4 linked regions of the Homo sapiens genome follow. The protein of the gene in region 1 interacts with the protein of each later gene in a pairwise test. Each region holds a gene or a part of one and is shown on either strand. Other genes may lie near its edges.

What was found.
Region 2: the proteins of RAB33A (region 1) and PSMF1 interact in binary tests that used the Homo sapiens proteins (3 or more experiments, as listed by UniProt).
Region 3: the proteins of RAB33A (region 1) and LRP2BP interact in binary tests that used the Homo sapiens proteins (3 or more experiments, as listed by UniProt).
Region 4: the proteins of RAB33A (region 1) and RUFY2 interact in binary tests that used the Homo sapiens proteins (3 or more experiments, as listed by UniProt).

Annotation. Positions count from the first base shown.
Region 1 is NC_000023.11:130,167,488-130,175,282, forward strand, and holds the start of RAB33A (ras-related protein Rab-33A), read left to right. Parts: upstream 1-4,474; 5' UTR 4,475-4,575; coding exon 4,576-4,833; intron 4,834-7,795.
Region 2 is NC_000020.11:1,128,342-1,135,767, forward strand, and holds part of PSMF1 (proteasome inhibitor PI31 subunit), read left to right. Parts: intron 1-6,779; coding exon 6,780-6,965; intron 6,966-7,426. UniProt on the Homo sapiens protein: Plays an important role in control of proteasome function. Inhibits the hydrolysis of protein and peptide substrates by the 20S proteasome. Also inhibits the activation of the proteasome by the proteasome regulatory proteins PA700 and PA28.
Region 3 is NC_000004.12:185,364,641-185,372,066, forward strand, and holds part of LRP2BP (LRP2-binding protein), read right to left. Parts: intron 6,426-7,426; exon of another isoform or gene 6,318-6,425; intron 6,219-6,317; exon of another isoform or gene 6,175-6,218; coding exon 6,000-6,174; exon of another isoform or gene 5,995-5,999; intron 5,546-5,994; exon of another isoform or gene 5,155-5,545; coding exon of another isoform or gene 5,110-5,154; intron 2,606-5,109; coding exon 2,540-2,605; 3' UTR 1-2,539. UniProt on the Homo sapiens protein: May act as an adapter that regulates LRP2 function.
Region 4 is NC_000010.11:68,397,278-68,404,277, reverse strand, and holds part of RUFY2 (RUN and FYVE domain-containing protein 2), read left to right. Parts: intron 1-2,540; coding exon 2,541-2,658; intron 2,659-7,000.

The sequences.
Region 1 (7,795 bases):
ATCCCAGCACTTTGGGAGGCCTAGGCGGGTGAATCACTTTAGGTCAGGAGTTTAAGACCAGTCTGGCCAACATGGTGAAACCCCGTCTCTACAAAAAATCCAAAAATTAGCCGGGCGCCATGGCATGCGCCTGTAATCCCAGCTACTAGGGAGACTGAGGCAGGAGACTCGCTTGAACCTGCCAGGTGGAGGCTGCAGTGAGCCAAGATTGTGCCACTGCACTCCAGCCTGGATGATGGAGCAAGACTCTGTCTCCAAAAAGAAAAAAATAAAGAAGTAGTGATAAAGACAGGCAAGTATGGTGGGGGGCCAGATTTGAACTGGCAAGAGTTGGGCCCTAACTTTGGAGGTAATGAAGTTACTTTTTTTTTTTTTTTGGTGGAATGGGGATAGAGAATGAAATTACAGGGCCGGGTGCAGTGGCTCATGCCTGTAATGCCAGTACTTTGGGAGGACGAGTGGGAAGATTGCTTGAGGCCAGGAGTTCCAGACCAGCCTGAGCACATAATGAGACATCATCTCTACCATTTTTTTTTTAAATTAGCCAGGCGTGGTGGTATGTGCCTGTGGTTCCAGCTACTCAGGAGGCTGAGATGGGAGGATCACTTGAGCCTAGGAGATCGAGACTGCAGTGAGCAGTGATTGCTCCCGTGCACTCCAGCCTGGATGACAGAGCGAGACCCTATTTCAAAAAAGAAAAAGAAAGAAATTACAAAGATACTCTTTTTTTTTTTTTTTTTTTCTTGAGACGGAGTCTCCCTTTGTCACCCAGGCTGGAGTGCAGTGGCAGTATCTCGGCTCACTGCAACTTCTGCCTCCCAGGTTCAAGCAATTCTCCTGCCTCAGCCTCCCGAGTAGCTGGGATTACAGGCAGATGCCACCGCGCCCTGCTAATTTTTCTATTTTTAGTAGAGACGGGGTTCCACAATGTTGTCCAGGCTGGTCTTGAACTCCTGATCTCAGGTGATCGCCCGCCTCGGCCTCCCAAAGTGCTTGGATTACAGGCATGAGCCACCTCGCCCGGCCTACAAAGACACCCTTCTGTGAAGTTTAACCCAGGAAGTAGTTTTGTTTTTTGGTTTTCTTTAAGAGACAGTCTCATTACGTTGCCCAGGCTGGTCTTGAACTCCTGGGCTCAAGCAATCCTGCTGCCTCAGCCTCTCAAAGTGTTGGGATTACACGTGTGAGCCACTGTGCCAGGCCTAGGAAGTAGTCATTATGTGGTGAAGATGATCCAGGGCTCCCTTACCCATTAAGCAGAGTAGATCAGTGTTCAGAAGTGCAGGCAATGGGTGACATTTTATCTAGAGCTCCTTTGGATAAATATTGAAAATATGGTCAGGCTCTGTGGCTCATGCCTGTAATCCCAGCACTTTGGGAGGCCGAGGAGGGTGGATCACTTTAGGCCAGGGGATAAATATTGAAAGTATCAATTCCAGGCCGGGCACGGTGGCTCATGCCTGTAATCTCAGCACTTTGGGAGGCCAAGGCGGGCGGATCACGAGGTCCGGAGATCGAGACCAGCCTGGCTAACACAGTGAAACCCCGTCTCTACTAAAAATACAAAAAAATTAGCCAGGCGTGGTGGCGGGCGCCTGTAGTCCCAGCTACTTGGGAGGCTGAGGCAGGAGAATGGCGTGAACCTGGGAGGCGGAGCTTGCAGTGAGCCGAGATTGTGTCACTGCACTCCAGCCCGGGTGACAGAGCGAGACTCCATCTCAAAAAAAAAAAAAAAAAGTATCAATTCCAAAGTAAGGTAAAAATTATTTATATTTACTTAACATTTTAACAGCCTTGCATTGATTTTTATTGATATTTGTAAAAACCAATAATCATGGATTGATTAAATACAAAGTTAATTATATCTGATGGCAAAAGAGACTGGAAAACACTGTCAAAATCATGATAATCAGGTACCTATGAAAACAACTGCATGTATTTGAAAGTAATTTAATAATGCACAATTAACACAAAGGGCATTGTACAGTACATTTAATTTTTTTACAATAGGTACAATAAGGTAGTTTTCCTGTCCTTTTAATTAAAAATTATATTTTTATCTTTTTTCAAAAGCAATATATACTCATTGAATTAATTCCAAAAAATATAAGTGGAAATCCCCCAAAGTCTCACCCCACAGAAGTAACAGACACCTTTTATTAGGGCAAGAAGCCCATTTTGAGATATCATATTTTCAGAAATCAAAGTTTCTTCCTTACAAAAGTAGACTCAGTGACAAGTTTTTGCTAGAAGCTTACATTGAAATAATCTTATTATGTACATATGTTTTTTTAATATCTCTCAGGAAGTTAGCATTAATTCTAGCTGTGAATTGGCAAAGGGCAAAGCCCCTTTCTACTTTGTGTACAGGATGTACCTAATTAATAGTTACCCCTCTCCACCTTAAAGCTATTCTGTAGATAAAGATCATCAGGGGCATTAACTTCCAATACAGAGGGGAACGATCCAGCAAACTAGGCATCAGACTAATCAAAACCAAAAATACTGTACAATGATGATTGATACATAATACAATGAAAATTGGTATTCATAAGGATGATTTTGGATTAGCCAACTAAGAGGAAATCCTTATCTGGGTAGTTTTAATGCTGAGTAGTATAATGTAGGGTTTTAGAAATGGGCGACCCACATATATGATAAAAGGGTTAGCTGTAAATATATCTGCTAGCTCAGCTAATAAACTTATTAACTGGAAGATGCCATTCTGAGTAACTTGGACGTCCTTGAGTAGTCACATTCCAATTTGCTTTCAGGTATATCACTGATGCACTGAATTGTTTTTCTCTCAGCAGAAATGGATTTGGTCATGTTTGTCTCTTCCTGCAGCTCAACCTCCCAAATAAGATGGCAGCTCAACTGTGCTGTTTGAATCCCTGACCTTGATGGCATTAGCAATAACTCACGAGTCAGTGCTAGTGACATGTGTCAGTGTTACCTTAGCTTATGAAATATGTAGGGGGAGAGGTAAAGTCTTAAAAGAAACAAATGGGTGCACTTTATCGTATGTAAATTGTACCCCCAGTAAAGTCGATTTCAAACAAATTCTGAACCCGCGAATGACTTTAGGGAGAAGGAATACTGGTCTTGACCAAGATGTGTGTGATGATTAGTAAGCTTTGGGCAGCAGCCCCCTAATACTGTAAGGAGGTTGTGTTCATTTATCATCTTCCAAGCATAATCTAGGCTTCTGGCAAATTAGACCCAACCACTTTGTTCTACATTCAGCTGCAGGGGGAGGTGAACCCTCCTAGGGATTCCCAACTCCCTCTGAAACTCCAGCGTTCTGGAGGGACTTATGGTTATATGGAGGGCTTGGGAATGGAAGGCACTGTGGAGCTTATGCCATTGTCCCAAGATCCTCCACCTGGGCCAGTAATGGCTAGCCCCGTAAACAAAGTCCCCTTTTGCTGGAACTGCCACCACTAGCTTCCCCCCCTTCTCCTAGCCTCTGTGTGGCCCTCTCCCGCGGCGGGCCTTCCCCATTGGCCAGCCAAACACAACCGACTGCGGCAGCCAATAGGAGCCGCTCTCCTGAACATTCAGAGGATGGGTGCGCGTGGTGTGATAAGGGGATGTTGGCGCCTGGTACGCGCCCCCCTACATCTGGCAAGTCTGTAACAGAAACAGTTACACCCCCTACACACGCACACGCGTGCCCGCTGGCTCCCTCCTCTCAGCTGTACAGGCCCCGGACAACCCACTGCGTGTCTTGGCAGCGGCCTCCCAGGCTGCCTGGGGCCCGCGAGTGCACCTGCTCACTCATTAAGACAGAGCATCCCTTTATCCCAAGGCGCGGGTCGGGTAGAGGGTGGGGGTAGAGGGGACGGGGTAGCGGGGACCGGGAAGGCGCGGCTCAGCTGCCCGCTGCTCCCGAGGTGAAAGAGGTGCCTCCGCCCCCACCCCATCCCCGCAGAGTTGCGTTGCTCCAGGGAGGCCGAAGTGATCCAGTGATGTCTTAAGGTGCAGCTCTTTGTCCTCCCCAGCTGTGCTCCCTGCCCGCTGACCCCGTGCGCTCGAGCCAGTGGGGGTGGGGAGCCCGAAACCTATAACATAAACGGGGGCAAGGAGAAAGAAGTCTATCCCGGGGTGGCGTGTGCCGCTGTCCCCACCCCGTCTCTTTCCTCCTGAGGCTTCTTCCCTCGGGTCCGTCCCGGGAATGCAGGCAGGGGAGGGTGTGGGCCGAGGCGCGGCGGCGGCTGGAGCAGCGCGGTAGGGTCCTTCGCCAGAGCATCCGGTCCGAGGGCGCACACAGGCAGAAGGCTCGCGGCTCGTCCACTCTCCTCCCTCTCTCCTCCTCTCCCTGGCTTTTGTGTTGGTGCCTCCGAGCTGCAAGGAGGGTGCGCTGGAGGAGGAGGAGGGGGGCCCGGAGTGAGAGGCACCCCCTTCACGCGCGCGCGCGCACACGGTGCCGGCGCACGCACACACGGGCGGACACACACACACGCGCGCACACACACACGCACAGAGCTCGCTCGCCTCGAGCGCACGAACGTGGACGTTCTCTTTGTGTGGAGCCCTCAAGGGGGGTTGGGGCCCCGGTTCGGTCCGGGGGAGATGGCGCAGCCCATCCTGGGCCATGGGAGCCTGCAGCCCGCCTCGGCCGCTGGCCTGGCGTCCCTGGAGCTCGACTCGTCGCTGGACCAGTACGTGCAGATTCGCATCTTCAAAATAATCGTGATTGGGGACTCCAACGTGGGCAAGACCTGCCTGACCTTCCGCTTCTGCGGGGGTACCTTCCCAGACAAGACTGAAGCCACCATCGGCGTGGACTTCAGGGAGAAGACCGTGGAAATCGAGGGCGAGAAGATCAAGGTGATCCAGGGGGTCAGGTCCAGGAAGGGTGGGACCCGGGAGGGGACCTCGCCCGAGGCATAGCTCTAGCGGTTGTCGTCGTCCAGCGTCCAGCGCGTGGCGGTTTCGCCTCTTGCTGAGCCGAGGACCCTCGGCTCCTCCTCACCCCTTTTCACCTCTCTCAGCGGGGCCCCGTCCCCACTTCACTCAGTTTTTTAGGGCGGTTGAGAATGGGGTTGCATTCTTACCCTTAGCCCCTGCCTGACAGGTCCTGCCAGGAAAAGCATGTTGGATTCCCATCCATGACCCCTACCCCGAGCAGCGGCACCTGTGGGCAGAGGGAGGCAGGAGGCATCTGTGGGTCCTAGTCTCTGGGATGGATCCCAAAGCACTTTACACATCCTGATGTCTCTTCTACTGCTTGGGTGCCGATAGGCTGCAAAACCCCACTTTGGCTAAGCCTCAAGGCGTTAGAGGGAAGGAAATGATGGAAATCCATGGAGAATGAAAAAGCTGCTTTATTTTAAATTGCAGTTTATAGTTAAAAAATTAGGGCTGAGTTGAGATGGCGGTGGAGTGGGGTGGTTCTGGCAGAAAGCCATGAGCCCTTTTAAAGAAATTGAGGCAGGGTCCAGCCCTTCGTAATAGACAAAACTTGTTTTTTTGTAACAGCCCCCCTGGAATGATATCTTCTTTACTTGTCTGGGGCATCTAATACATGAACTGCTCCTTATTCATTCTGTTGGTATTGTCTTCAGGTCTTTGTAAAAATGCAGTGACTTAACCGAGGGCCAGGGGAATGTTCAATCCTCCCCCTCCATGAGTTTATGTAATAGGCTAAGTGCAAATATTCTTGTCTGACCATTTGTGCTCACCTTTAATTCAGAAAAGGTAGAAACCTGATATGACAGGAATATGTCAATGTGCAGGGGATGGCGGGAGGGAGGACATAACAAGGGCAACTTCTTGTGTCATGGGGAGCAGAGGGGGGCCTCTATAAAGGCACTGGGATCACTGAAGACAACTCCTCTAGGCTCACAGCTGGCCTTTCCTTGAGCGTATGGTTGGACCTTAGACAGAGTCAGGGGTGACAGTAAGCCTCCTTCTTGCTGGTCAAACTGCCAAAGTGACCACAAGGCCCCTCCTCTGAGTGACGTGGAGAGAAGGGCTGAGTAACTGATGAAACTGATGAAACACTTGAAACTGTGCGAGACTCCTGACTCCTTGATTATTAAAATGAACGTGTTCTAAAAATGGCTTCAGAAACTAGGCCAACTCACTAGATGTCAGGAAGATGGACAGCTCAGTACTGATAAGGGAGAGCCCCAGGGTAGGAAGATAGAACATTATTTTGAAATCGTGATCTTTTTTGCCCCTTGCATTTTGGAAGGGAAGTGCTACATTTCCTTTTAAAGTCAAAGGCGGTATCTGTCTCTGTCCTTTCCTGGGGCTGTTGACATTTGCTTGGTTAAGACTTCCTCTAGTGTGTCTAGCTTCTTTAATGTAAGGCTATAAGATTCTAGAATTTCTAAAACATGACTTTGTAATCCAAAGTAGAAATATCTTTACAGATGGGCTCTTAAACCTCAAAAACCTAATGCTCCCATTTGCTTAAAATCAAGTGCTACAGTGAGCCAAAGAGTTCCCTGGATTTAAAAGGTGGGAAATAAGTCCATCTGAAATTTAGATGGAAAAAATGAAGTGTTTGGGAATCTAAAGAAGGAGGGAGGAAGAAGCTAGAAAGTGAGGGATGACAGATGAACACGAGTGGAAGAGTCACCACCCAGTGGCCTTGAAGGAATTTTTAAACTATTCCTTCTCTTCTAACACCCCAGTACTTAGCCAAACTGGACTTTACAGTCTCTGGCAAAGATTCCAGACTTTTTCCCAGAGGGCAGAGCCTGTGACAGTGTGACTCACTAGAAACAGAGCTCAGCACAACACCACGTGCAGATAAGTGCTTAATACAGGCTTTTTTGGGGAAGATGATATTTTCAAGGGGACAAAGCCTTGTGACACTGCTCATGGAGGAGTCCTCTGAGGGCAGATTCCAAAGGAGCTCAGAGTGGCGTGTGGGAGTGGGGAGATGGTGACCCTGCTTCTTGTAAAGCTGCTGCAATCTCAGGACCATGCTGGCAGGCGAGAGACCAGCATGTCTGTGGGAAGATGGCAGAGCCTGGCGGCTAGCACGTGATCTAGATAAGAGAAGATTTGGCCTCGCACTCTGGCTAGCCTGAAGTTGTTCAAGGAATACATGCCAAAGCCATGCTTGGAGATGACTGCCAAGGGCTTCGTCCTTTGCGAGAGAGAGAAAAGTCCAGTGTGACAGTCCGAGGTCTGGCCTAGACCATGGCCAGCAATAGAAGGCTTTTGGGCTGTAACATACCAGCCCTTGGAGGAGAGTGGTAGAGAGGTCTCAGCCAGCTCTTCTCAGTCTAAGAGCAAGGGTGTGGCCTCTTCTGGGCTGCCTGCCTGTGTCCCGGGGTAGCACATACATGAACCCCTGCTAGGGACAACTGATTTGGTGTAGTTAGAGCCACACTGTAATTAATTATCAAGGCCATCCCTAGGGTATTGAAGCCCCATTTGCTGTCTCCAATCATTATGTTCCCCACCCTCACCCCATCAAAGCATTTACAATTGAGTCCTGATGAACTCAATTGTATGAACATCAAGAAAAGCCTCCAATGAGTAGGCAATAATAATAATAATAATAACAACTATGTATTGAATAAGCAAAGAGCCCAGGCTAGGCACTTTACATGCATTATCTTATTTACTCCTCACAGCAGCTTTATGAAATCAGCAGTATTGTTATCATTCCCATTTTATAGATAAGGAGACTGAGGCTAAGAGAGATGAAATAACCCAGTGGCACATGGATCTGAGCTTCAGCCTTTGACTCTTGAGCCCAAGCACTTCGCCACCTCACTATCCTACCTTTCCTGTTACAGGGCCACGATTTCAACCCAGATTCAGAGAC
Region 2 (7,426 bases), on another chromosome or scaffold:
ATTCTTTTTCTCTTATTCCATACTTATATCTCCCTTCTCCTGTGGTGAGAACCCTGATTCCCAGCAGCATCAATGTATTTACTTATTTATTTGATCCTAGAATACACACAAATATTTTCTGAATTGCTACATCAGTGCCTACCAAGAACAAACCTATTAAGTAAAGTTCCAAATGACTTATTTCCAGTTCTTTTTGTCTTTTAACTATGTTCCACAAAAGATGTAGGCAGAGTAGTGTGTTCCAAAGGTACTTAGATTAGTGCTTGTTTTTAAAATCAGTATAATGAAATTATCTGTTTTATATATAGTTAAGCTGATTTATGTCTGCTTTATTCCATTATAGGGATTTTCCCCCCATCTTCATTGACCTCCTCAGGGTTTTATTTTTTATTTTATTTTATTTTTTTGAGGTGGAGTCTAGTTCTGTCACCCAGGCTGGAGTACAGTGTGACTGTTCAAGCAATTCTTCTGCCTCAGCTTCCCGAGTAACTGGGATTACAGGTGTGCACCACCACACCCAGCTAATTTTTGCGTTTTTTTGTTTTGTTTTTTGAGACGGAGTCTTGCTCTGTCACCCAGGCTGGAGTGCAGTGGCGCGATCTCGGCTCACTGCAAGCTCTACCTCCCGGGTTCACGCCATTCTCCTGCCTCAGCCTCCCGAGTAGCTGGGACTACAGGTGCCCACCACCACGCCTGGCAATTTTTTTTTTTTGTATTTTAGTAGAGATGGGGTTTCACCATGTTAGCCAGGATGGTCTCGATCTCCTGACCTCGTGATCCACCTGCCTTGGCCTCCCAAAGTGCTGGGATTACAGGCGTGAGCCACTGCACCCAGCCAATTTTTGCGTTTTTAATAGAGACAGGGTTTTGCTGTTGGCCAGGCTGGTGTCGAACTCCTGACCTCAAGTGATGGGATTACAGGTGTGAGCTACCGCACCTAGCCACCCTCAGAGTTTTAGAGTGAGCTTGGCATCACTATAAATGCACAGTTATCAAACCTTAACCGAACCTCAGAACTGCCCAGAAACCCTGTTGCATTTAATAGTATCTAATCAGCAATACCCTCTTTGAACCTATTCCAGTCCTCACAGACTTTCAAACCACTGGCCTCCACATTCTGGCCACTCCTCATTTCTCCTCCCCTCTTCCATGCAGCTTCTGTGTGAGGAGGTCTTTTACATATTCCCCTCCTGCATGCCACCCTCCAGTGTATTTCCCACGCAGCAGTTGGACCAGTCTTTCAGACATAGATCAGATCATAGTTAACAACTCTGGCTTAAAACCCTTCAGTGATGCTGCTTCACACCCATTACGATGGGTAGTATCAGAATAACCAGAAAATAAACAAGCGTTGTCAAGGATGTGGAGAAATTGGAACTCTTGTGCACTCTTGGGAATGTAAAATGGTGCAGCCACTATGGAAAACAATATGACAGTTCTTCAAAAAATTACCGTATAATCCTGCATGTCCACTTCCGGGCATATACCCAAAAGAATTGAAAGTAGGTCTTGAAAAGATATTTGTACACCCATGTTCGTAGAAGCATTATTCACAGTAGCCAAAAGGTGAAAGCAGCTTGGCTGTCCATTGATAAGATGAATGGATGAACAAAATTTGGTATGTAAATACAGTAGAATATTATTCGGCTTTAAAAAGGAAGGAAATTCTGGCCCGTGCTACAACATGGATGAACCTTGAAGACATTATACTAAATTAAATAAGCCATTCACAAAAGGACAAATTCTGTGTGATTCTATTAAAAGTACCTAGATTAGTCAAATTTGTAGAGACAGACAGTGGATGGTGGTTGCCAGATACTGGGGCAAGAGGGGAATAGGAAGGGGAGTTAGTGATTAATGGGTACAGAGTTTGTTTTGCAAAATGAAAAGAGATCTGGAGATGGATGGTAGGTGATTGCACAACAGTGTTAATGTACTTAACAGTACTGAACACTTAAAAATGGTTAAGATGGTAAATTTTATGCATATTTTACCACAGTTAAAAGTCTTTAGGGAATACTCATTGCTGTTAGGATAAAGAGCACAATCCTTGATGAGGCCTTAAAGCATTCACCCCTTCAATCTCACCTTGTACTGCCTTCCCCGCATCCCTGTGCTTCAGCCACAGTGTCATTCTTCTGCCCTCTTCAGACCTCTTCCCTCTGTCTAAAGTGCTCTCCCTGACCTCACGTAGCCAACTCCTGTTTATCTTTTGGTTACCGATTTAAACGTCAGTTCCTTAGAGAAGCTTCCTCTGGCCCCCAGGCTTACAGCTTCAAAACATTTTAGTAAAATGTTTTTTTTGGAGTCAGGTTTCCCTCTGTTGCCCAGGCAGGCTGGAGTACAGTGGCACAATCAGCTCACTTATAAACAGGCCAAGCAGCCTCAACCTACTGGGCTCAAGTGACCCTCCCACCTGAGCCTCCCAAATAATTGGGTCTACAGGCATGTGCCACCATGCCCAGCCAGTTTTTTATTTTTTGTAGAGATGAGGTCTTTGCTGTGTTGCCCTGGATCAAAACATCATTTTTTAAGCATTTAATCCATCAGATATTTTACATTTACCTTCTTAGGGTTGGTCTTCCCTCCTTGCCTGTGATCTCCTTGAGGGCAGGGTTTGGGTGTCTTCTGCATGCAATAGACAAAGGGAGGGAAGGGGAAGTGAGCCAGGCCTGGCCGGCAGAATGCTGCGCCTCTGAGGAAAGGGGGAAGTGAGCCAGGCCTGGCCGGCAGAATGCCGCGCCTCTGGGTGTTGCACACTCCCTGACACCCTGGCCCCTCTTAGTGGGTAAGGGAGGGACATTTGGAGTGTGGTCTCTTGACTTCTTCACTCTGGACTTCCACTGGGAGAGAAATTGACAAAACCTGTGGAAGAACCTAGGAATTATACTGGCCATTCATGCTCATTAGAGCATTCCGTCTGTTCAGCAATACTGAAAGAGAATTGTGATCCTGTCTCTATTTGTTTTTTAAGTACATTTGTTTGAGGGGTTTGTGTGTGAGGGAGGGGATATGTGTTGTGTTTTGTTTTGTTTTTTGATTACTGTGAAATGAGGGACACAATAGTACTACCTCAGGGTTTTTCTGAGAATGGAATGAGATGTCAGCACATAGAGTGCTTAGCGCTTAGTCCAGCTCTTAGTAAAATACACAAAGGGGAAAAAAATGTGATCACCAGGAGTCATCTCCGTGGAAATGGGCGGTGAAAGCTGAGGTATGGCTCTGCCTCCTGATCAGAGGCCCTGTCTCCCTCCTATGCCTTTCAGCCATAGCTTCCTCCATGTAGCCCTCTTTATTAGGTCATTGTGGCATGTCTTGCCTCTTCCAGCAATTTGTGCTCCTCAGTGAGCAAACTGTGATTTGCTAAGAAATATAAACCTATTGTGTTCCATTCTGCTGTACCCTTTCTGTGTCGGATGAGATGGTAGGCTGTCTTTTGCCACAACCAAAATGGCAGTTGTTCTTTCAAGGCTTAGAAATTGTGTGAGAACTTCTCCTTCAGGACCTGGTGGTTTTTTAATCAGGCCTGAATTTTACACATGCCTAGGGAGATCAGAGGCCTCCCTCTGATCTGATTAAAAGGAAAGAAGACTTGAATTTACCCTCCCACCCAGCTTGGGCAGGCAAGCAGCTCATTTTTTACCCATGGATGTCCAATGGCCCCAACATCATTTGTTATTCCTTCATTGAATTACTTTTGAAACTTTGTCAAAAATCAGTTGTCTGTACATCTGTGGATCTATCTCTGGATCCCTTGTTCTTTTCCATTGATCTCTATGTCTCTTCCTCTGTCAATATTACTCTATCAGTATTGATTATTGTAGGCCTTAATATTGAGTAGAATAATTCCTCCCACTTTTTCTTCGTCAAGGTAGTTGTAGCTATTCTAGGTTCTGTGCCTTTTCTTTTTTTTCTTTTTTCTTTCTTTTTTTTTTTCTTTGTTTGAGACAGAGTCTCACTGTGTCTCAAAAAGGCTCAGGCTGGAGTGCAGTGGTGTGATCTTGGCTCACTTCAACCTCTGCCTCCGGGGTTCAAGTGATTCTCCTGCCTCAACCTTCTGAGTAGCTGGGACTACAGATGCGTGCCACCATGCCTGGCTAATTTTTTGTATTTTTAGTAGAGACGGGGTTTTACCATGTTAGCCAGGATGGTCTCGATCTCCTGACCTCGTGACCCACCCATCTTAGCCTCCCAAAGTGCTGGGATTACAGACGTGAGCCACCGCACCTGGCCTCTGTGCCTTTTCATATAAACTTTAGAGTAAGCTTGTGTATATCTATGAAAAACCTTGCTAGGATTTTGATAGGAGTTGCATTAAACCTATAGATTAGTTTGGGGAGAATTGACATTCTTGCTATGAACATGATATATCTTATCTCTCCATTTATTAATATTTAGGTTTTATTTGATTTCCATCAGTATCATTTGTAATTTTCAACATATAGATCCTGTACATAGCTTGTTATTTGTTTAAAGCAGAAAGGGAGATGATTATGAATGGCATATTCTGTCCTTTGTTTTGGTTTTCAAATGTTCATTGTTAGTGTGTAGAAATGTAGTTGATTTTCCTGTGTTGAACTCTTCTATCCTGTCACCTTGCTGAATTCAAGGTGTTTAGGGTTTTTTTGTTTTTTTTTTTTTTTGGTAGATTCCTTGGGAATTTCAGGGTAGACTATCATGTCATTTGCAAATAGGGACAGTTTTATTCCTTACTTGCTAATATGAATGCCTTTTGTTTTTCTTGCCTTATTGCAGTGGTCAGGATGTCCAATATTATGTTAAATAAGAGTGATGAGAAAGAATATGCTTTCCTCGTTCCCAATCTTAGGAGCAAAGCATTCAGTCTTTCACAGTAAAGTATATTGTTAGGGGTAGGTTTTTTGTAAATGTTCTTTATCAGGTTAAAGAAGTTCCCCTTTATTCTTAGTTTGTTGAGAGTTTTTAATCTTGAATGGATTTATCATGTTGGATTTTGTCAAAAGCTTTTTTCTGTATCAATTGATATGATCATATGATTTTTCTTCCATAGCTTATTGATATGGTAGATTACGTTGATTGATTTGTGACTATTAACCAGTCTTGCATGCCTAGAACAAATCATACTTGGTCATGGCATATAGTTCTTTTTATACATTTTTAAATTCAATTTGCTCATATTTTGTTGAGGATTTTTTTTGTGTGTAAGTTCATAGGATATACTAGTCTATATATGTGTATATATATATATATTTTTTTTTTTTTTTTGGTGTAGTCTTTGCCTGGTTTTGATACCAGAGTAATACTGGTCTCATGAAATGGATTGGAACGTATTCCCTCCTCATATATTTTCTAGAAGTGACTGTAAAATTGGTGTTAATTCTTCTTTGAATGTTTGGTAGAATTCTTCCTGAAATCATCTGAGCCTGGAGATTTTTGGTTTTTGTTTTTTTATTTTATTTTTTTAGAATGTTAAGTGTAATTCAGTTTCTTTAATGGAACTATTCAGATTATCTATTTCATTTTGGCTGAGTTGTAGTTTATGGTTTTTAAGAATTGGTCTATTCTGAGTTGTTGGATTAAGTTGTTCTTAGTATTCTCTTATTATCCTTTCAGTGGCTACAGATCTATTGTAATATCTCCTGTTTCGTTCTTGTTATTGGTGACTGTGTCCTCTCTTTGTATTTGTCAGTCTCGCCAGGAGTTGGTCAGTTTTATTCTTTTTTTTTGAAGAATTGACTTTGTTTCATTTTCTCTCTTGTTTTTCTTTTTTATTGACTTCTGTTCTTACCTTTATTACTTCTGCTTGCTTTGAGTTAATTTGCTCTTCTTTTTCTAGGTTCTTTAGGTCAGAATTTTGGTTATTGATTTGAATTCCTTCCTCTATTTTGATGTAAGCATTTAGTGCTATGAGGTTTCTTCTCAGCAATCCTTTAGTTATATCCCACATATTTTCGTATGTTTTTATTTTCATTTTAATTCAGTGCTATATATTTCTTTTTTGTGACTTTGATCCAAGGATTTTCTAGAAGTATGTTGCTTAATTTTCATGTATTTAGAGAGTTAACTTTTTGTTTTGATTTCTGTTATGATTCCATATGGTTGGAGAACATACTTTATATGATTTCAGTTATTTTACATTTGTGAGCTTTGCTTTATGGGCCAGGATGTGGTTCATTTTAAAATACCAGTGTTTTAGGAAGCCTGGAGTCCTGCCCACTCTGTTACCTCAGCCTGCCTCCACACCTCAGCTGTGGCTCACGTCACTTGTCTCTCACAGGCATAGAAAAAGAGGCCCAGGCAGGATGGGACAGGTGGTAGGGGCAGCCTTCCGAGGACCCCTGAGTTAGTGACAGAACTGGACCTTGAACCCCCAGAGCTCTGCCTGCCTGGAACAGGAACCTGGTTCATCCTCCCCATGGAGCCTTTGCCTTCCATGACCCTTCCCATGACACGTGATGAACACACAATGAAGCTGAGGGAGGGGTGAGGCGGGTGAGGACAGAGGAGTAGCCAATCCAGGCCCTGTGCCCCTACACCCTCACCTCTTTCTAATGGGGTGGTAAACAAGGAGGGGCAACTCAGATGCCTAAGAAGCTTGGGCCCAAATCTCAGAGACAGCGTGGGGCTGTTGCCCCCCTCACCCAGGTCCAGCAGGCGGCCTGTTCCCCCACTTATAAACAGGCCAAGCGCAATGCCAGGAGCTATCAGGGCCGCCGCCGCCGCCGTCGTTGCAGCCAGAATACCACTTCCAGGGTTCCTAGCCAACTGCAAGCAGTTGACTCTTCATCTGCTTCCTGCAGGACCTACAAGAACAGTGAGGAGCTTCGGTCTCGTATTGTGTCTGGAATCATCACACCTATCCATGAGCAGTGGGAAAAGGCTAATGTAAGCAGTCCCCACCGGGAGTTCCCCCCTGCTACCGCCAGAGAGGTGGACCCACTCCGGATTCCTCCACACCACCCACACACCAGTCGGCAGCCTCCCTGGTGAGTACAGAGTGCCTAGCGGGAAGCCCATGCTTCTGTAGAGGGATTCCAGCCAGCTATCCCCATCCTGCCACTTGACCCCATCCCTGGCCCGTATGTGTTTTCAACAAAATGATCAGTGTCTTGGGGTGCATGGAGTTAGAAAGTGGAGACGTAAGTGGAGCAGTGAGTTCTTGAACTGCTACTAGTCACCCTAATTACCCAAAATCCTAAGCCTGCCTGATTTCTTTCTAGGGGCCACACAGAGCCCCTGAGTCTGTCCAAGGATCAGTGCCTCTGGGGCTTATGTGCAGTAGTCTAAGGTTGCTGCCCAGGTAATTCACAGCTAATTCATTCCAGAGCTTTTTGTCTAGACAGGGCCCTGGGCCAGTCTTTCTGAGAAAATGTAAACATGTAGAGGTACTAGCCCAGAGGAGATGCAGTCCCAGTGTCTTGCCCATTTCATTTCATTGTAGTCCCCC
Region 3 (7,426 bases), on another chromosome or scaffold:
TAAGATTTTTTTAGTTATAGCTTTTTTATCCTTTTTTCAAACCATGATGATATTTGACACTTAAAAAAATACCCAAAGTTGGCTATTGATAAAAATTATCCTTCAAAAGACTATATAGAAAAGACCAGATAAAATACATTCAAGGAAGAGAGGCAATGTGAAGTTGTCAAGCCTGAAGAACTTATCACAATACAATTATGGGAAATGTCTATTTTAGGCATAATTCTATGCTATCATTTAAACTGTAGCTGTTAAGTTTACATTGCGAATGAGAAAGATCACTATTATTTTGTCTCTATATTTATTTATGATAAAATGTCATTTTTCCATGAGATATCAGCTACAAGGAATCTTAGAGAAGGAGTGTGTGTGTGTGTATGTGTGTGTGTGTGTGTGTGTGTAAGAGTAATGATCTGGAAGTCTCAATGCACTCGAGTTACAGACTCACCGCAGTCTCAGGTCAAGGGGTTTACTACTGTCCTCAGCAGTGGTAGTTTGCAGGGACTCGCTTGTGCCAGAGCATTAGCTTTATGGTAACTAGAGTAAACTGAAATTTTAAATTCTGCATTGGATTTATAGAAGACATATAAGCATAGCATGTTACCATGTATGGCACACGTCAAAGTTTATGATTTCTGAAACCCATCTTTAATGGCAGTTTAAAAAGTGCTCTTTACTTAGGGCCGATCTTTTATTATGTTCCTATTTTAAGATTCTTTTTATTTTTTTTTGAGATGGAGTCTCGCTCTTGTCACCGAGGCTGGAGTGCAATTTGCGCGATCTCAGCTCACTGCAACCTCTGCCTCCTGGTTTCAAGCAGTTCTTCTGTCTCAGCCTCCCGAGTAGCTGGGACTACAGGCGTCCGCCATCACGCCCGGCTAATTTTTGTATTTTTAGTAGAGACGGGGTTTCACCACGTTGGCCAGCCTGGTCTCAAACTCCTGACCTCATGATCTGCCCGCCTCAGCCTCCCAAAGTGCTGGGATTACAGACGTGAGCCACTGCGCCGGGCTAAGATTAGGTCAGGAGACTCCGTCTCAAAAAAAAAAAAATAATAATAATAATAATAATAATAATCTTTAGGAACTGGATTAAGTGTGGAGAAGAGAATACTAGTTGGGAATTTGGATCTTCAAGTGGTTGAAGGAATGTTACATGGGTGGTATTAAGAGATTTGAGACAGAAATACATGACCATTTGAGGATATCTCAAACCCGAGTCTGTTGAAATTTCTTCCCTTACACAAAGACAAAATGAAGTTCAGGCAATACAGACAAGCCAGAACATAAAACGAGAGCAAATACTTTTCTGCCATTCAACAGTTCTTAGTGACTATCACCTCCATATTAATTGCATTTTCCCATTACTAAAAAGAAATCTTGTTTAAATCCACTGTTGGGATGGTTGTGATTTATAAAATAAAGCCACATCCTTTAATATGTTTATAAAAAAAGGAATAGTTAAGGTATCTCTGAGACCTGTCTTCGATATGTATATTTGTTTCACAAATGAATAGCCTTGTACAATCTTATGCATATGGATCTTACTGTTTTTACTGTCACCTTTTGCCTTCATAGATGTCATCTATATACGGAAAGCCTTTTGCTAATTTTAACAATATTTAATTGTAGTTCTTGTAAATGATTTCATTGAGGCTTTTACCACAGGGTTTTAAAAATATGGAAAATGAGCTGAAGCACAAAGAAACAATTTGCTTTACTTTTCTTACGAATATTTTCATATAGCAATTGCTTTTTGTTTTATTACACATTCTGCATATGTATGTAGCAGTTGTTTTACTCATTAAGATCTTTGAGGGAAGATTTGGAGGGGCAAGATTCTAAAGCAATGTCTTATAACCCACTTTTTTGAAGTTTATATGTAATAAGCCAATTATTTATGAGCTTTTTAAGAATAAAGGATGTCTCAAAAGGCTTAGTGCAGTTTTAGCTTTAATAACTTCAGAAGTAGAAATGCTGCACACACTTATTTAAGTTTAATTCTTTAAATGTCTTTTACCCTTAGTTTTGTGAAATTTTAAATTTTTAAAATTTTAAATGACTGAAAATTTAAATTTTAAATGACTGAAACAAAATTTAAACATTATTATTCAAAATTCACAAAACTAAGAGACAAATTTAAAGAATTAAACTTTCAAATGATGGTTTTAAATAAGTTTGTTTCTACTTCTGAACTTACTAAACTAAAGCTAAACTAAGTATTTTTGGAGACTCGGTGTTTAAGAAAGGATAAACGATACTTGCTGTATAGAATGGTTTTAATACTTGATATGGTCTCGGCCAGTCTGTAGGGTAAGAGGTGGACCTCTGAGGACTCTTCCAGCAATTTGACCTTGTGTCTAGGTTTCAAGTTGCAAAACTTAACAGCGTACGAATTCAAGAACGAAGTAACATGTCACCTGTAAAATACCCAGGATAGTGTAATTTGTGATGTGCAAAATAACCAAACATAGCTACTGTAAAAATACACACATTGTGAGGTGTTAGCATTGATGATCTTTGTTGAAATACATTGTGGTCTAAATTCTTTGACGAATAAGTAAGGAGTGAAGTTCATCTGCCAATGCGGGATTCAGACGACAAGCCTTAAAATCAAAAAGAGTCAGATATTTAGATACATTCTAATTGTTTGGGTCTTTCTTCTTTTTTTTTTTTTCTTTTTTGATTCATTTTTAAGAATAGTAAAGTACAGTGAATTTCAAGAAAATTTGTTAAGATACTTTCTATTCTGATGTCCTACTTTAACCTATGCAGAATAGATCAATACTCAAAATAACCATGTTATTCTCATTTGAAAGAGATATTTTATCAATGCCAAGAATAAAGGGAACTTAAGCACCAATGATAGCATTGTATGTTATGAATTATTAAAATAAGTAAAATGGAGAGCATTAACATTTGGCCTCAAAGTTGTTATGATCTCATTATGTGAATAACAGCATCTGTAAAATTTTATTTTAAAATATACAGCTAAAATAATTTTATTATGTCTAAATAGTGACAAGGTGCATAATTTCTAGAATGTCAACAATTTGGGATATAGAGCTCTCATCCAAACCCCATTCTATGCAGTAATTGTCCCTTCAGTACCCACGACAGTTGGTCACTAGGTATTTGCTTGGTTGCTTCCAGTAGCAGGAAGTTACACATTCTACATATGTAGAAGTTTTCACCTTCAGAGAAAACTTGTGTTTTTCTTTGTTTCCTGAACTGTTGTGTTAGAAAACTCTCCCTTATGGCCGGGCGCGGTAGCTCACACCTGTAATCCCAGCACTTTGGGAGGCCGAGGTGGATGGATCACGAGGTCAGGAGATCGAGACCATCCCGGCTAACACAGTGAAACTCCGTCTCTACTAAAAATACAAAAATTAGCCAGGCGTGGTGGTGGGCGCCTGTGGTGCCAGCTACTCGGGAGGCTGAGCCAGGAGAATGGCGTGAACCTGGGAGGCGGAGCTTGCAGAGAGCCGAGATTGCGCCACTGCACTCCAGCCTGGGCAACAGAGCCAGACTCCGTCTCAAAAAAAAGAAAACTTTCCCTTATTTTAGGCTGGTGTTTCTCTCCATGTACTCCAGAATCCTCGAAGGGTCCTAACAGAATACATAATGCTGGTTTCACAGAAACCTAACACTCTAGGAAGTGGGAGTCACCCTGCCTGACGGTGGCAGAGCCGAGAGCAGGCCTGGGTCTGTCGCCTCCAGGTCCCAGTTACCATCTTACTGCCTCACCTTCTGCCATAACACACTGCCTGCCATGGGCACTGATTCTGCTCCCTCCCAACCTGTTCCCTTCCTGCGGGACACTGCCTCTCCCTCCCAACCCGTTCCCTTCCTGCGGGACACTGCCGGTCCAGTGAACACCGCTGTCGGGACACCTTGTGTCCTTTTGCTCTGAGGGAGACCATTTCTGTTCCTCATATCATGCGTCATATGATATCATTCCAGACCCTTCACTGGTTTACTGCCTCTAAATGATCTCCATTTTATCAGTATCCCCATAATGTACAATGGCCTAAACTGAGTACAGTATTCTAGATGTGTATCCTAGAGTCCTAGAGTACAGTATCCTAGTTGCAGAGTAATGGGGCTATTTTCTCCCATCGTATGGAAAATCGTTCTCAGATTGGAATCTGTTTTGTTTTTTTTTTTTTTTTGAGATGGAGTCTCACTGTGTTGCCCAGGCTGGAGTGCAGCGGCACAGCCTCGGCTCACTGCAGCCTCCTCCTTGCAGGTTCAAGCGATTCTCATGCCTCAGCCTCCCGAGTAGCTGGGACTATGGACATGCGTTACCATGATGGGCTAATTTTTGTATTTCTAGTAGAGATGGGATTTTGCCATATTGGACAGGTTGGTCTCACACTCTTGGCCTCAGGTAATCCTCCCACCTCGGCCTCCCAAAGTGCTGGGATTACAGGCATGAGCCACGGTACCTGGACTTTTTTTGTTGTTCTAGTCAGGATGACTATATAGTATATTTCAAAATATATTTGACTAGAGTTTTCTAAGGATATTAAGGATAGGATAGAACCTGAAATCGGCTTGGTTTGGAAATTGATGTAATACAGAGAGCTTTTTTTTTTTTTTTTTTTTTGAGACAGAGTCCCAGGCTGGAGTGCAGTGGTGTGATCTCGGCTCACTGCAACCTCTGCTCCCAGGTTGAAGCAATTCTCCTGCCTCAGCCTCGCGAGTAGCTGGGTTTACAGGCACACATTGCCATGCCTGGCTAATTTTATTTTTCAGTAGAGACAGGATTATTTAGTATTTTTAGTAGAGACCCAGTTTCACCATGTTGGCCAGGCTGGTCTCGAACTCCTGACCTCAAGTGATCTGCCTGCCTCAGCCTCCCGAAGTGCTGGGATTACAGGCATGAACCACTGTGCCTGGCCAGTACAGAGAACATTTAAATGAAAAAAGTTAGACAACTGTTATTCATGCTAAGAATGGTGTAGAGGTAAATATCTTAAAGATCAGTTGCATTTGGCTGTGTGCTATGTGTCTATGTTTATGTTTTAATATGGCTTTGATGCTCTGGAAGTTTTAATTTTAAAGTAATTTAGGGTTCCCAAACTTACCTGACATTGGAATCCCACAGGGAACTTCAACAAATACGCTTCTGTCTCCTAGAGACCATGATTGAAATTTTCTGAAATAAGGCCTGAACTTTGGAATTTGTAAAAGATCCTCGGGTGATTTTAACATGCAGAGAAGCTTGGGAACCACTGCTGTAATATCAGAGTCAGCCAAGGGACTCAGAAGACTCCCCCACTCAGGCTGAACAATCTGTGTTCCACAAACACTGCTCTACCAAGTCTGCTATGATGTAATTCTGACTCGTGGATGTGATGGACCTAAGATGTGCACAGCTTTTTGGTTTTTCTTTTTTTAAAAAAAATCTAAACTTAAGAGTTAGTACTCATAATGATCTCCCTTACACCCCCTCCACTACCACACCCCTTGCTTTTTAGTATTTACTTTGAGATGTGAAACGCATTTGGGATCTAAATAAATTGATCACATGGATTAAAATATGAAAGACTTATTTTAACTGATTACCTCAAACTCAAAAATATCCCGCCTAAGTGGGGTAGATGTCACGCTCAAAAAAACTTTAAACTCTGTACTAGAATAAAAAACTTCATTACTGTACTAGAATGAACGTATACATTCACACTTGTTCTAGATGAAAGAAAAACTGTTCAGCTTTAAGGTCTTGGTGCTGGGCCTTAGGCTGCAGATAGTAGCAGAATGAAAGAGTAATTTGCATCAAAATAGGACTTTTAATCATTGGAGCTAAATTATGCTAATAAGATTCTGACAGAATTGTCTGCAAACAATCTGCATGTCTGACAGCTTCTCTGTAGACAGAGGTTATCTGCACAGTAATTGAGTAGAAAAAACACTAATCCGTAAAACTATTCAAGTTGCAGCTAAAAGCCTGGCAGTTTCTCTTTGGGTGAATTTATATTTTGTTCTAAAGCTTACTTTAGAATAATAGTGTTTAGCGGTTGTTTCATCCCTGGTGATGCCCAAGCCAAGCTGAAGACACCTTGCGTGGTAGAAGGATGCCATTGCCATGCCTCTGCCGATGAACTCCGGGAGACAGTCTGTGACCTGGGCGATCATGGGGATGTCGTGAACCTCATCATAGTCAGCGATCCTGAGAGGATGTAGAGTTGTGAAATGGAAAAGACATCAGTTATGGTAAGTGTTTGTAAAACGATGCGCCTAGAGACTGTCCTTGTGCCTGAAGTGATTTCTCTCTACTGCTTTGAGAACTAAGTTGTTTGCTGTGTGGGGAAGGGTCCATGTAGGCACCTCATACCAGGAGAAGATGAGCTTCCCAGAGTGGTGACTTCACATGTCTCTGTAATTATGCTCAGCAGGCTCAATAACCACTGGAAAACAAAGGTATGTTTCTTTTTTCTTCTAATATTACTACTGGAAGTTTAATGTCACTTTGTGGATTTAAACTGAACGGAGAAGAAAGCATTTTCTATTTCTTTGGATCACGTATGGAAACATCAACCTTCAGTTTGGACGTTAGCCACATAGGACCAGAAAACCCTTTCACTAGCACATCTTCTTTAAAAATAGACAATTGGCTGGGCGCGGTGGCTCACGCCTGTAATCCCAGCACTTTGGGAGGCCAAGGCAGGCGGATCACGAGGTTAGGAGATTGAGACCATCCTGGCTAACATGGTGAAACCCCGTCTCTACTAAAAAAGATACAAAAAATTAGCTGGGCATGGTAGCGGGTGCCTGTAGTCCCAGCTACTCGGGAGGCTGAGGCAGGAGAATGGCGTGAACCCGGAAGGCAGAGCTTGCAGTGAGCCGAGATCGCACCACTGCACTCCAGCCTGGGCAACAGAGCGAGACTCCGTCTAAAAAAAAAAAAAAAAAAAAAAAGGATAATGGAAAGAAGTCATCCTTTATACCCAGACACAAATATGTACAATTGTGTGAGAATGTGATCCAGTCAACTCCATGTTAACCTCAATGTCATAGGGAGTAGGGATGTGGAAAATAAGGGAAAGCGCCGAAGATTTTAAAGAATGATTTAAAGTCTTAGTTCTAACTAAGATGGGCACTTGCTTTGAGACACTGGCAATCACTCCTGTAAGTGGTCTGCTGCCTGGAGCCCGAGACGCTGGGGAAGCGGGGTAGAAGCAGCCCCTCCTTCCCTTCATCCTCTCTTGTAGATGACTGCCCTGAGCTAGGGCTCGGAGAGGGGGGAGACCTGGCGCTGTGGGAAGGGTGTGATTGGGAAACACCAGCACACGCAGAGTCTGATGGCCACTCTAGAGTACACCCAGGTCTGTCTCCCCGACCCACTGCTTTTATACACTGTGGGTAAATACGTGTAGGAAAGTACATGGAGCCTTACGGACTCCGAGAAAAGACGTCTTTTA
Region 4 (7,000 bases), on another chromosome or scaffold:
ATATACACGAACATATGTAGAAATATCTTCTGGATGGAGTTATTGTAGAAATGTGAGCCATCCCTGAAGATGATAACAGCAGATATTGTACTCCACTCTCAGTACATATTGAATTATTGTTACATATAAAATGTTGGTTTTATATTTAATTTAAAAATATTCATTGCATAATAACTGTGCTTTTACTTATAATAACTGTTCACAGTTTTGGCCTCTAGTTCATACGATGAGTATCTATGTAGAGGGCTATGTAAGAGTTGTACACTAGAGTGACTATTATAGAGTAAAAGAAGCTTGACTGGCCAGACACGGTGGCTTAATGCCTGTAATCCCAGCATATGCCTGTGGTCCCAGCTGTTCGAGAGGCTGAAGTGGGAGGATCACCTTAGCCTGAGGAGGTCGAGGCTTCAGTGAACTCTGAGTGTAGCACTGTACTCCAGCCTGGACAACAGAGAGAGACCCTTTCTCAAAAAAAAAAAAAAAAGATTCAAAGATTTACCTAAACTTTGTTTTAATAAAAAGTACTTCAAAACAAGAAGGAAGCCTTGACATCAAAATTTGAGAAATCCTGTGTGATGTTATTAGCATACTCATTTCTTTTTCTTTAGAGACTTAAAGCAATTTCTTAAAATGTATAAATACTAGCGAAAGATACTCTTTTTGTACATAAACAACAGAGAAGTACACAGAGCAAAACATGGTTTTTATTCATTCTCTTCTATTAACCTCTCTAAAGGAAATTGGGCACCTGTAATCCCAGCACTTTGGGAGGCTGAGGTGGGTGGGTCACTTTGAGGTCAGGAGTTCAAGACCAACCTGGCCAGCATGGTGAAAACCCATCTCTACTAAAAATACAAAAATTAGCCAGGCTGGTGGTGTTCGCCTGTAATCCCAGCTACTCAGGAGGCTGAGGCAGGAGAATTGTTTGAACCTGGGAGGCGGAGGTTGCAGTGAGCTGAGATCGTGCCACTGCATTCCAGCCCAGGGTGACAGAGTGAGACTCTGTCTCAAAAGAAAGAAAATGGGAGAATTAGATATTCTGTTATCCCTTTTCTGTTTTTTTTTTCTTTAACTGTAATTGTAATCATGCTATTAGCATTATTCTGTGACTTCCTTCTTTAAAAAAAAAAGTGGCTGGGTGCGATGGCTCATGTCTGTAATCTCAGGACTTTGGGAGGCTGAGACTGACGGATCACTTGAGGTCAGGAGTTCGAGATCAGCCTGGCCAGCATAGTGAAACCCCATCTCTACTAAAAATACAAAAATTAGCTGGGTGTGGTGCTGCATGCCTGTAGTCCCAGCTACTTGGGAGGCTGACGCAGGAGAATTGTTTGAACCTGGGAGGCAGAGGGTGCAGTGAGCTGAGATCATGCCACTGCACTCCAGTCTGGGAGACACAGAGTGAGACTCTGTCTCAAAAAAAAAAAAAAAAAAAAAAGATATGGCTTGGAGATCTTTCCATTTACATAGACATCTGTATCAGAATTAATAGCTGTGCGATATTTTATGGTATGTATATGGCATAATTTAACCATGCTCCTCTTTTTTTTTTTGAGATGGGGGTCTCACTCTGGAGTGAGACTTGATTTTCAAAAAATCAGGAGTGCATCTTGATTTCAGAAAAAATCAGGAGTGCATCTTGATTTTCCCCAAGACTGCTGAAATGGAGTTTGCCAAATTATGGCCAAAATAGTTAAATTTTAAACTATTTTTAGACTGTATTTCCTTTACTTCACAACTTATGTTGAACCATGTCCTAGCAGTTATAGGCTTATCTGGATGAATCATTATAAAGCTACTTTGTGCGTGTGCTTTTCTCCCCCTGGGAAAAATTGCCTATCTTGGGTGTCCTTGGGTAGTGTATATGATAGGCACCCTGTATTTGCAGGAGATCTGGTCAGTAATAACAAAAATGTATGGCAATTTCATGGTTTTATATTGACCAAATCTCAGAATAAAATACAAGGAAAAGGAAATTCACAATTTTTCATATTTAAAATTAAAATAACTTCTTAGGCTGGGCGTGGTGGTTCATGCCTGTAATCCCAGCCAGCACTTTGGGAGGCCAAGATAGGAGGAACGCTTGAGGCCAGGAATTCAAGACCAGCCTGGTCAACATAGCAAAATGCCATCTCTACTTACTAAAAAAAAAAAAGGCATTATAAAAAATAAAATAACTTTTTATTTGTGCTTGGTTTGTTTAATAAACTTATAAAGATCAATCAGCTAGGGCCACCAGCCTTTATTTTGGTATTGGTAGAGAATGAGTGCAGTCATTTTTCACTTTAATTACCTTACTGCATATTTGATATGAAAGAATGGTCACTGTGTCTTTTTATCATGTGGAAAAAAATAGCAGGATGGGCAACAGGATCCTACTGGCACAGGCTCCAGATCCACTGGGATATGTAGTGGATAAAAGAGGAAAGATCTCTGAATAATTGTATGTTAAGTTAGAAATGTTGAAACTAAATATTTAAAAATAAGTTACTACAGTTTTTTATGTTGACATTGTGTGCATTATGTGTTCTTTTTTTCAGTAAGAAAATCATTTTTGAGTTACAACAAAACCATCTGGGGCCCTTTGGAACTGGTGGAGAAGCTGTACCCCGAAGCAGAGGAAATAGGAGCTAGTGTCCGGGATCTACCTGGTCTGAAGTAAGGAGGCCTATTACTTGTTCATCCCTAGCCACAGAAGTGTATTCATTGTTCCTCCAAAGTACCTCACACTCTAGCTTATTGTCTTCTCTTAGTCTTAAGTCCCCTTCTTCTAATCCTCTTATAATAAAATTATGTTCATTCTTTATGGCTCAACTCAAATCCCATTTCCTTTATGAAGTTTTTCTTAGCCTCTTCGATCAAAATTAACCACTCACCATTCTGCCTTGTATTGTAGGAAATTGAAAGTCCTTTTAAGATAGGATATATCAGTTATGCATCTTTGTTTTCTGAGTGTTAAATTAGTTTGCCTGTAGTAGAAAGTCAGTAAGTATTGAGGAAAGACTGATTTAGGCTGAATCCAGGGCACAGGCTCAGGATATTCCAGTTCTCAGATAAGCCAGTTGTATACCCTAGGACTGGTGTACATTTCTTTGCTTCCTCTGAAAATTGGTACCTATAATGTCACCAGCCTGTTTCATCAGACAAATGTATGTAAAATGTCTTAAAAGTTGGAGTATGTTAGCTAAGAATACTTTCATGAGTATTTAAAATTTTTTGTAGGTGTAAAGTGTTAAGACTCAGTTCTTAAATTCTTTTTTTCTTTGAGACGGAGTCTCGCTCTGTCGCCCAGGCTGGAGTGCAGTGGCACGATCTCGGCTCACTGCAAGCTCCACCTCCCGGGTTCACCCCATTCTCCTGCCTCAGCCTCCCGAGTAGCTGGGACTACAGGCGCCCGCCACCACGCCCGGCTAATTTTTTTGTATTTTTAGTAGAGATCGGGTTTCACCATGTTAGCTAGAATGGTCTCGATCTCCTGACCTCGTGATCCGCCTGCCTCAGCCTCCTAAAGTGCTGGGATTACAGGCGTGAGCCACCGCGCCAAGCCTATATTCTTTTTTTTTTTAGTTTTCTTTTTAATTTTTATTTTCTTTATTTTTTTTGAGATGGAGTCTTGCTGTGTTGCCCAGGCTGGAGTGTAGTGGTGCGATTTCAGCTCACTGCAACCTCCGCCTCATGGGTTCAAGCAACTTTCCTGCCTCAGCCTCCCGAGTAGCTGGGATTACAGGTGCATGCCACCATGCCTGGCTGATTTTTTGTATTTTTAGTAGAGACGGGGTTTCACCATGTTAGCCAGGATGGTCTTGATCTCCTGACCTTGTGATCCGCCCGCCTTGGCCTCCCAAAGTGCTGGGATTACAGGCGTGAGCCACCGTGCCTGACCAGTTCTTATATTCTTTAGAGTGTAATTAAAATGTAAGTGTTCTCTTTTGTTTGTCTTTGTTTATTTTATTTTATTTTGAGACGGACAGTCTCACCCTGTTGCCCAGACTGGAGTGCAGTGGTGCAATCTCGGCTCACTGCAACCTCTGCCTCCCAGGTTCAAGTGATTCTCGTGCCTCAGCCTCCCAAGTAGCTGGGATTACAGGCATGTGCCACCATCCATACCTGGCTAATTTTCGTATTTTTAGTAGAGATGGGGGTTTTGCCATATTGACCAGGCTGGTCTTGAACTCCTGTCCTCAATAGTGATGGAATTGGCCCAGCGCAGTGGCTCAGGCCTGTAATCCCAGCACTTTGGGAGGCCGAGGTGGGCGGATCACCTGAGGTTGGGAGTTCGAGACCAGCCTGACCAAAATGGAGAAAGCCTGTCTTTACTAAAAATACAAAATTAGCCGGTGTGGTGGCACATGCCTGTAATCCCAGCTACTTGGGAGGCTGAGGCAGGAGAATTGCTTGAACCCGGGAGGCAGAGGTTGCAGTGAGCTGAGATCACGCCATTGCACTCAAGCCTGGGCAATAAGAGAGAAACTCTGTCTCAAAAAAAGTGCTGGTATTACAGGCGTGAGCCACAGCGCCCAGCCTCCCTTTAGTTTATCTTAATTCTTGTTAATGAGATAACTTTTTTTGCATTAAGCATTTTCTGTAAGGTTAATCGTTTGTTTTCTCATAGTTTTACAACTTAGGGTTTATATATGTTGTGGGGAATATGGTAGTGTTTTGCTGTTATTTTGTTGTTGAATGTTCAAATGTTCAAATGTTTGTAAATTGGAATTTATTGAGTGATAAAAGTAAGTGGCTACTGTTGAGCACTGTGTTAGAGTAATAAGGTACCTGTTTTACATGAATTATCTCCTTTAGTGCTTAAATCAGTCTTACAGGTAGAGGTTATTATTATAATTGTATAGATGTGAAAAATAAATGCCAGATAAATTATAGTTAAAAAGTGGCAGAGGCAGGATTTAAACCCAGTTTTTAGAGTTAAATATAAAGTGGCTGGGTGTGGTGGCTCACGCCTATAATCCCAGAACTTTGGAGGCTGAGATGGGTGGATTGCCTGAGCCCAAGAGTTCGAGACCAGCCTGGGCAACATGGCGAAACCACATGTCTACTAAAAATACAAAAAAATTAGCTGGGTGTGGTGGTGCACGCCTATAGTCCCAGCTACTCGGGAGGCTGAGGCAGGATAATTGCTTGAACCCAGGAGGCAGAAGTTGCAGTGAGCCAAGGTCGTATCACTACACTCCAGCCTGGGTGACAGAGTGAGACTTTGTCTCCCCCACCAAAAAAAATTGGAAAAAAAAAAAAATCAAATGATATTTGTTCACAATTGATATTTTTGGTATATCAGGTGTAAAGATTTTTAACAAAGAGGAAAAACAGAATTTCAACTCTCAAAAACAAAAATGTAAGATTTGATTCATTTTAATATGAAAATATGTATTCATATTTTGTTAAAAAGCCAGACTCTACAATAGTAAAACCTGTTTTCTGATGGTGTTCATTAAAATGCTAAGCTATAAGAAATGCGTTAATTATTAGAAGTGAAGATCAAGTCTCTTCCTGTACTATCTGCCAAAATGTTCTCTGCATAAGAAAATATAAAAGTGTGAATGATACCACTCTCTTTAAAAAAAAAAAGTGGTATAAAAGTTGCTTTTTAAAAAAATTATTATTATATTTTATGGAGACTGAGTCTGTCTCTGTTGCCCAGGCTGGAGTGCAGTGGCGGGATCTTGGCTCGTTGCAACCTCCACCTCCTGGGTTCAAGCGATTCTCCTGCCTCCGCCTCTCGAGTAGCTGGGATTACGGGCTCATGCCACTGTGCCTGGCTAATTTTTGTATTTTTAGTGGAGACGGGGTTTCACCATGTTGGCCAGGCTGGTCATGAACTCCTGACCTCAAGTGATCCACCCGCCTTGGCCTCCCAAAGTGCTGGGATTACAGGCGTGAGCCACCACGCCAGGCCACTTTTATTTTTAATAACAGATAGAACTTGGGTAAGAGAGGTATGAGATTTAATTTCTTAAATGCAACCAAATTAAAGAAACATTTGAAAACCAGTAAGCAGCACAGTGATTTCTCTTTAATTACTAGCCTGGCACCCTCTTAGCTTTGTTATGATTTTTAAAATTCAGATATAATGTTACCTATGTTTTTGAAGGCATTATGGTGCCTTATTGTAGAATTTTTTTTTTTTTTTTTTTTTTTTGAGAACAAATCTTACCTTGTTGCCCAGGCTGGAGTGCGATGGTGCAATCTTGCCTGACTGTACCCTCCGCCTCCCGGGTTCCAGTGATTCTCCTGCCTCAGCCTCCTGAATAGCTGGGATTACAGACACCCACCACCAAGCCCAGCTATTTTTTGTGTTTTTAGTAGAGACGGGGTTTCACCATGTTGGCTAGGCTTCTTTCGAACTCCTGACCTTGTGATCCGCTCGCCTCGGCCTCCCAAAGTGCTGGGATTACAGGTGTAAGCCACTGGGCCCGGCCTGGTGAAGTTTTAATATTTATTTTTAGAGGGCTAAGCTCATTCAGACTAAATATTTCTTTTTTTTTTCTGAGACAGGGTCTCACTCTATCACCCAGGCTTGAGTACAGTGATGCAATCACTGTTCACTGCAGCCTCTGCCTACTGGGCTTAAGCAACCTCCTGTCTCAGCCTCCTGAGTAGCTGGGAATACAGGCACATGCCACCACACCTGGCATTTTGATTTTTTTTCACTTTTTTAATTTTTTTTATTTTTAAATTTAATTAATTTATTTTTTTTATATAGAGACAGGGTCTCCCTATGTTGTCCAGGCTGTTCTCTAACTCCTGGATTCAAGTGATCCTCCCACCTTGACCTCTCAAAGTGTAGGGATGACAGGTGTCAGCCACCGTGCCCACCTAAATATTTCTTATAGAAGTATTCTCACCAGAGTCCTGGGCTGCATAACATTTCATTAAATGATGGTGGTTCCAAAAGATTATAATACTGTATTTTGACTTTACCATTTCCATGTTTAGCTGTGTTTAGATACACAAATAGTTAACAATTGGTTAATAATTGCCTACAGCA